Linked DNA regions of Homo sapiens. The protein of the gene in region 2 purifies or fractionates together with the protein of the main gene of each other region. This does not show direct contact. Each region holds a gene or a part of one and is shown on either strand. Other genes may lie near its edges. The genes, in order: SPCS2 and GPC5.

Region 1 (3,828 bases), on a different chromosome or scaffold from region 2:
AGGCTAAGTAATATAAAAAACTACTATTGAAATTTGATAAGATGGAGATCAGAGCAGAGAAATGGTGCTAGCAACAGCTGAAAAAGGTACCTAGGCAGGCAGATATATATATATATATATATATATATATATATATATTTTAATTAGTAATTAAAGTAATAGTATTAAAGTAATCAGTGTCTGTGATACCACTGTGTTACATGACATATAGTTTAAAGAAATAATAATTTGAAACTTTAAGGGTTACTCCAGGAAAGACAAAAATAAGTTTCTAAAATTGCGATATAGTTCACACACTATAAAATTCACTATTTAAAAATAATGCCAATTCAGTGGTTTTTAGTATACTCACAAGGTTATGCAACCATCACCACTATCTAATTCTAGAATATATGCATACCCTCAAAAAGAAACTCCATACCCATTAGCAGTCACATCTTATTCCTGTCCCCTATCCCCGGGCAGCCAACAATCTACTTTCTGTCTCTATGGATATACAAATGCAGTCATACTATATATGGCCTTTTGTGATCGGTTTCTTTCACTTAGCGCATTTTCAGGATTCATCCATATTGTAGTATGTATCAATACTTTATTCTAACGGTCAAATTATATTCCATTGTATAGATATATCACATTGCATTTATCCATTCATCAGCTGACAGACTGTTTCTACCTTTAGGCCATTATGATAACTGTGTTATGAACATTTGTGTGCCAAGTTTTCCTGTGGACACACATTTTCAGTTCTCTTGGGTATACACCTAGGAGTGGAATTGTTGGGTCATATGGTTAACTTTACGTTGAATTTTCTGAGGAACTGTCAAACTGTTTCCAAGAGTGCCACCACATTTTACATCCCTGTTAGCGATATATGAAGATTCTGATTTCTCCATATTCTCACCAAAACAGGTTATTTTCCTTTTTTTTCCCCCTTTATTATAGCAATCTTAGTGGACGTGAAGTGGTTTCTCATTGTGGTTTTACTTTGCATTTCTCTAATGACTGATGATGTTGCGCATCTTTCCATGTGCTATGGGCCATTCGTACGTCTTCTATGGAGAAATGTCTATTTACATCTTTTGCCCTTTTAAAAACTAGGTTGCTGTCTTTTTATTACTGAGTTGTAAAATTCTTTATATAGTCTAGATGCTAGACCCTTATCAGATATATGATTTGAAAATGTTTTCTCTCATTCTGTAGATTGTCTTTTTTCACTTTCTTGATAGTGGCCTTTGACACACACATACTTTTTATTTTGAGGAAATAAAAAATAATGAGTTTTGAGACGCTAATAAAGATCAGTTTGCAACAGTATTAAAAGGCCAGCACCTTGTTTCATTAAACACACACACACAATTATAGTAATGTTATAAAACCGTTCATCTTCTTTGTCAGAGCTAGGTAACAGGGCACAAGCATATCACCTGGAAGTCTGACAAGCTAAGATATCTTCCAGTAGAGTAAAAGAGGAGATACCTAAGGACATATGGTTGGTGGGTGACAAAGCCAAGGCCACAGCCTAGGTCTTCCACCTCACAACAGATGCTCATCCCACTACTACGTTAGCTAGCACATTAGATAGCACAAGGCACACTCTGGTATGGGAAGCAATGTGCTGAGTAAAGAAAGAGCACTGGATTAAGCACTGGGGGAGCCAGGTTCTGTAAGTGTTACTAATTCACTGTGTGGTCTTGGGCAAGTTGCTTTGCTTGTGTCCTTGTCTACAAAATGAGGCTGAAGTATCATATGAGTTTCAGGATCTCTTCATTATAAACATTTTAAAGAAACCACTATTAAGCAGAATAGCTTTTAAAAACAAAACAAAAACCTTAAAATGTCAGAACCAGAAGAGACTTTAAAAAATCATTTAAGCCAGTAGTTCTCAACCTGGAGGTAACTGTTAAAATGCAGAGGTAATAGAGACATGTGAAGAAAAATGCAGATATTCAGGCCTAAAAAAAGGTCCAAAAATCTGTTAATTTTAACTAATTCTCAAAGGAGTCTGATGTAAACAGATTAAAGCTGTGCTTTAAGATCAGGCTGACAGGCCAGCCAGGAGACAGAAATCCAGGTATAAGGCTAAAAGGGTCTAGATAATAGCTTCTGGAAAGCATGGTTTAACACCACATATCAACTTTAATAGCCAAAACAAATTAAGCAAGCAGCTTTTCTTTATAACTGCCAGGCAGAAGAAAATGCTTTGATGTATTTGGGGCAAAATAACATACTGCAATGATCTAAGTCAAGTTATTCTGTGATGGAGGCGGAAAGATTATATTTGCATACTTATTTTTAAGATCAGGAAACAAGAATTGCTGTGTTCTTAAAGTCAGTTTCATAAGAGTAGAAATTCACATCTGCTTAGGGAAAACTAGGAGCATATTTGCATCTCTTTATTACACTTCTTTATGGCAAGTGAAACTACAGCTGCAGAAATAAAATAAAAACCCTCCCCGCCCAAATCAAGACACATCAAATTAAATAAATTATATTAGGCTGGGTGTGGTGGCGCACGCTTGTAAACCCCGCACTTTGGGAGGCCGAGGCCGTTGGATCACCTGAGGTCAGGAGTTTGAGACCAGCCTGGCCAACATGGTGAAACCCTGTCTCTACTAAATATACAAAAATTAGCCGGGTATGGAGGCACATGCCTGTAATCCCAGCTACTCGGGAGACTGAGGCAGGAGAATTGTTTGAACCTGGGAGGCGGGGGTTGCAGTGAGTGGAGATTGCGACAAATCGAGACTCTGTCTCAAAAAAAAAAAAAAATTATATTAAAGGTAATAGCTTCTCATTCCCACACAGCAAAAGCCTCTCTATTCATTCAGATCCTGCTCCACTGAGAATAACATTTTTTTCCCCAAGTTCTCTCCCACAGTACCCTCAGTCTTCAAACAATTAGAGGCACCATCCTCTAAAGCTGTTTCTGAAGACTGAGGTGGCAGATCTCAAGTTTTTTCTCTGCGAAATTCAATGCTAAAAGTACTTATCTTGTGTTGATCACTACAGAGAAGCACTCACAGGAAAACGGGCAAATACAAATTGGTGAAATAATACAAGACAGTATGTCATATTAAGTGACAGCTTAATTCCCATGTGCAGTGTAAGTGCTAGAGGAATTCAGGGAGGGAACAGTTCAATGTAAGGCTGAAACTAAGTTTTCCAAGAAAAGGCACTCAAGCAGCTCTTGACTATTCTCTTCTGTCCCTCACTTATTGGTTAAATCTTCCAAGCACTCTTTTGTGAGACCTTTTATCTATTTCTGCTACTCATGTTGGGGTTCTCATCACCTTGTCATTCTATTTTTTACCACAGACAGCCCTTTACAAAGAACATTTACTTCTAGTAGATTCCAAAGGACAGGGAACAGAGCTGGGTGCGGTGGCTCATGCCTGTAATTCCAGTACTTTGGGAGGCTGAGGTGGGCAGATCACTTGAGGCCAGGAGTTCACGATTAGTCTGGGCAACACAGTGAGACCTTGTCTCTACCAAAAATAAAAATAAAAATAAAATAAAAAGGGCAGAGGAAACCAAACTAAAAAACCCAAAGAACATTTACCAGCACTATACAATTTGATCCTTACAACAAGCCTATAATATGTATGAATGTCCACAATATTTACATAAGGAAATTTAAATTCAGTAATATCACACAACTTATCCAAGGTCATGTGGCTTTTATTAGGTAGGTGCAAAAGTTATCGTGGTTTTTGCCATTACTTTCAATGGCAAAAACAGCAATTACTTTTGCACCAACCTAATAACATGCGGCACTAGAACTCAAATTTGTCTCTTTTTATTATATATTATACACTACTGTGTATA
Region 2 (3,828 bases):
TTTAGCACATACCCTTTCACTGACTAAAACAAACACATTTAATTTGATTTTGTTTTTGGAAGTACGTATTTTTACTGCTTTCTTGCATTTCTTGTTCACAGTGGTTAATCCCTGAGATGTCTAGCCAAAACACAGTTTGTATAATATAAGCAGGTAGAATAAGTTTTTAGTTTCTTCCTACCTTTGTGACTTTTACTTTTTCTGATAAAAATGTTATCCAAATTGAAATTATTAAAATTGTGAGAGCAGTGATTTAAACTGTTTCTCAGATTCCCCTCACCTTTGTTCTCTACCCTGCTCCAATTCTTTTAAGCCTATTGAGCTCCTAAGGATGTTTGGATGAGAAATGTAAAAAAGGAGAGAAGGTGTAAATGTGATTAGAATTAGAGATTTCCCTGTGTTCCGATTTTATTTTCTAAGTAGTAGTCAAGGTGCCCTTTGCTCTTGTTTATTTTATTCAGAAAAGAACTGTTACTGAAAGTGTCTTTTAAAGGTCTTTTCATTTTTATTTTATTTATTGGGGATGGGGATAATGCTTTTCTATTAAAATTCTCTTTGCACATGCATTGTGCATTGTTCACACATGCAGTAGTTCCTCTTTTAGAGGGTAGTTCAGAAAGGGGAAGTTCATAAAAAATAATACATTTAGATAATTTATATACCAACTATTTTTTGAAATATGCATGTTTGTTGATATAGAAATCTATAGCAAGTATACTCTCGATATCAAGTAGTCTGTGAAAGTAACTTTTCCTTGGTAGATTTTGGCTATAAATAGAGTAATAAAAATAAACTCTTGACATGGCTAAGTGAAATTTTAATACTAAAAGACACTGTAAGCAGTGCTCTGAAGTTGTTGTTGTTTTTTAAACTGCTTTCATTATAATCAAATCTTATTATTGCTCCAAGGACAGTGTAGTTTCATTCTCACACCTAAGAAAAATGATCTGCTTGGTAACCTTGGAGTTTGGATTTACTGGATAGACATTTGGCTTTCAAAACTTGGTTCTACCACTTGTAGTTCTGCTTCATAGACAAATTATCATCTTGAACCTCTGTTTTCTCATTTAGAAATAGGAATATTCTTAAAAAGTGTTTGCATAGATAAAATGAAATAATGTAAAATGTCACAAATCCAGGCACATAGTAAGTGCTGAAAATATGTTCTTGTTGTCATTATAATTTTTTTGTTTACTGTCTTGATTTTAACTTGATTTTTAAGGATGACATTTTAATTTTAGATCTTTATATATCAAAGATGTTTTTACAATAATGAGTTGGTTTCAAGTCAGAAATGATTATTTTTAAATTTGGGAAATGTATTTTTATCTAAAGTGATATCCGTTACATTATGGTGAATATTTTGTTTATTTTTGTGAACTAATAAACCTCTATGAAACAAGGCTGCGCTGCTGCTAGCTGCAATGCCCATAACCACTGTCTCCACTGCCACACCACCGTTCTTCTGTCTGTAGGGAGGTAAAATAGTGCTTCTAAGGTGGTTTACAGATTCACACAATTAGAATGTTGGTGGCCATAGTCACTCATGGACAGTAATCTGAAATTGCGACTCTATTTCTCATGAAACCAATTTTGCTGTTTGAACAACGTGTTTGTGGGGATCAAATTTCCAAAGCCAGAATTGGGACCCGTCGTCTGACATTGGGGCAGATGATTAACATCAGGATTGCCCTGGGTCGAAGCCCACCAGCCAGGAACCACTGGAAACAAGATTGTAGTAAAATTAGATTCATTTTGTTTGTTGCAGCAAGGGAGATTGCACACCAAAGGGACTCTGGAGAGTTTGGTAGTAGGTAGTTGGGAGGGCTTTTTATAGGATTTGGGCTTGTGGTGGGCTATTATTATAAGGAAGGTTTAATGAAGTGGGGCAATTCAGGAATTGGCTATTTTGGTAACTTTTATCTAGGTGTTAGAAAGATTAAGGTGGGGTAGTTGTCATAAATAAAGAAGCAGTAGTAGCTAGTGCTGGTTAAAAGAGGGGAATGTTTAGTTATTTTTGTGGTTGCAGAGTGCCTTTGTCCTCATCCTTTTATACCACAGGTCCCAAGTGGTCTTGCCTCATCATTGTTTTCTAATTCTGTGCATGTTATTTATCTTGAATTGTGAGCATCAAGGCCCAGTTCCACTTCCAGGACAGTTTGTCACCTTTTCCCTTGGGAAGTCCAGTCTGTGCTTTGATGTCTAAGAGAATCACGTGTTTCATTTTTCTCTAGGCCTTTAGTGCATCTTAATGGTGGAGAAGTGAGTTTGATTTTCTACTTTAGGGTCATAGAATCCAATGGCTCATCAGGTGCTGAACTATACTGATCACACATATTCCCTCATGGGGTTAATTATAACTATTGCTGTCAACTATAAATCTAGTGCATCAACTACAAATATTATATATGTCCCCATTCTCTCTCCATCCCATAATTTAAGTTCCATTTTGCCGAGTGTCCAACATCCTATAGTTGTAAAATTGGCTTAGGAGGGGTACAACTTGAGGAATTTAAGAATAATATTTTCCACTTATCACCCCCCAATCCCTATTATTTTTCCTTGTTTCCAGCCTGTTAAGGCTTTCCGGAAGATGGGTATTTTTGGTGTGTACATGTATGTGTGTGTGTATAATCCACTTTCACATTGTCCTTATATTTGATAAGAACACTTTCTAAATCTACCACATTTCTTTTATAGTTACCTGGTAAGACCAAGAACAACATTCTAGCTAGGTGCCTCAACTAAACAGACATAATTTATAGATGAATGGTCTCTTGGTATAACTGTTCAACCGACAAACAACAGATCTGATTTGTTAAAATGGAGTCATGAGAGACTTGAAACATATGTCTGTTGAAATATATTCTCTGTGAATGTGGTATCTGATCTACTTGGTTAAGTAACAATAGCAATTAATTTTAATAGATAATAGCCATTTTCCATATCTACCTTTCTTTTATAAAGTCCTGACCTTCAACTAGAAGAAAAGGCAGCACTGATTGTGCTCTCAATTCTTGAACTTTTCAGTTTTAGTAAATCTTCCATTTCACTAATGAGATTGCCCAAATTATCCTAAAATGATTATTCATTCCTCTGTGAATCACCACAAACAGCACAGCCCTTGATTAGTTGCATCAGGGCCACATATGGCTACTATGTAAGTTGAATGTGCAGTGTACCTTTATAGAAAGAAAAGAAGATGTTATACTTCCACGTTTTTATGGAAGAATGTATGTTTTCTTAAAAATTTATAAAACTGAAAAGTACAAATAAAGTAAAATAATTTTACCATCCAGAAATAACCACCGAAATGCCTTTGCATTGTCTTTTTAGCATGCTCATCAGCCCCCTGCTAAGCATGACTATTTTTTGAAAGAATATAGAATAATTTCCTTTTTGAAAAACATGGCTTTTCCAATTATGAATGTATCTTTATTTCCCATTTCCCATGCTGTTAAATATCTTTCTAAGCCTGATTTTTTAAAGTGGCTGTACAGTATTGGATTAAATCTCTGTAGCATAAATTAAATTCACCTTTGTCGTTAGAACTGTAGGTTTCCAGTATTCTCTACCATAAAGTCACATACATGGCTGAGGACATCAAAGGCACATGTGCCAAACTCCTACACAACTCATGGCTTTGTACATGATTTACATTACTATACGTTAGGGTTTTTCAGCCTGAGTGCCATTGACATTGGGGGATTGGCAATTCTTTGTTGTGGGGTGCTGTCCTGTGTATTGTAGAATGTTCAGAAGCATCTCTCACCTCCATCCACTAGATACCAATAGCATTACCACTCTCCACCAAGTCGTGATGACCAA

Evidence for each region.
Region 1: the proteins of GPC5 (region 2) and SPCS2 purify together in Homo sapiens (affinity purification with mass spectrometry; one large-scale study listed by BioGRID and IntAct). This does not show direct contact.

What each region holds. Positions count from the first base shown.
Region 1 is NC_000011.10:74,952,162-74,955,989, reverse strand, and holds part of SPCS2 (signal peptidase complex subunit 2), read right to left. Parts: intron 1-3,828. UniProt on the Homo sapiens protein: Component of the signal peptidase complex (SPC) which catalyzes the cleavage of N-terminal signal sequences from nascent proteins as they are translocated into the lumen of the endoplasmic reticulum.
Region 2 is NC_000013.11:91,401,525-91,405,352, forward strand, and holds part of GPC5 (glypican-5 precursor), read left to right. Parts: intron 1-3,828. UniProt on the Homo sapiens protein: Cell surface proteoglycan that bears heparan sulfate.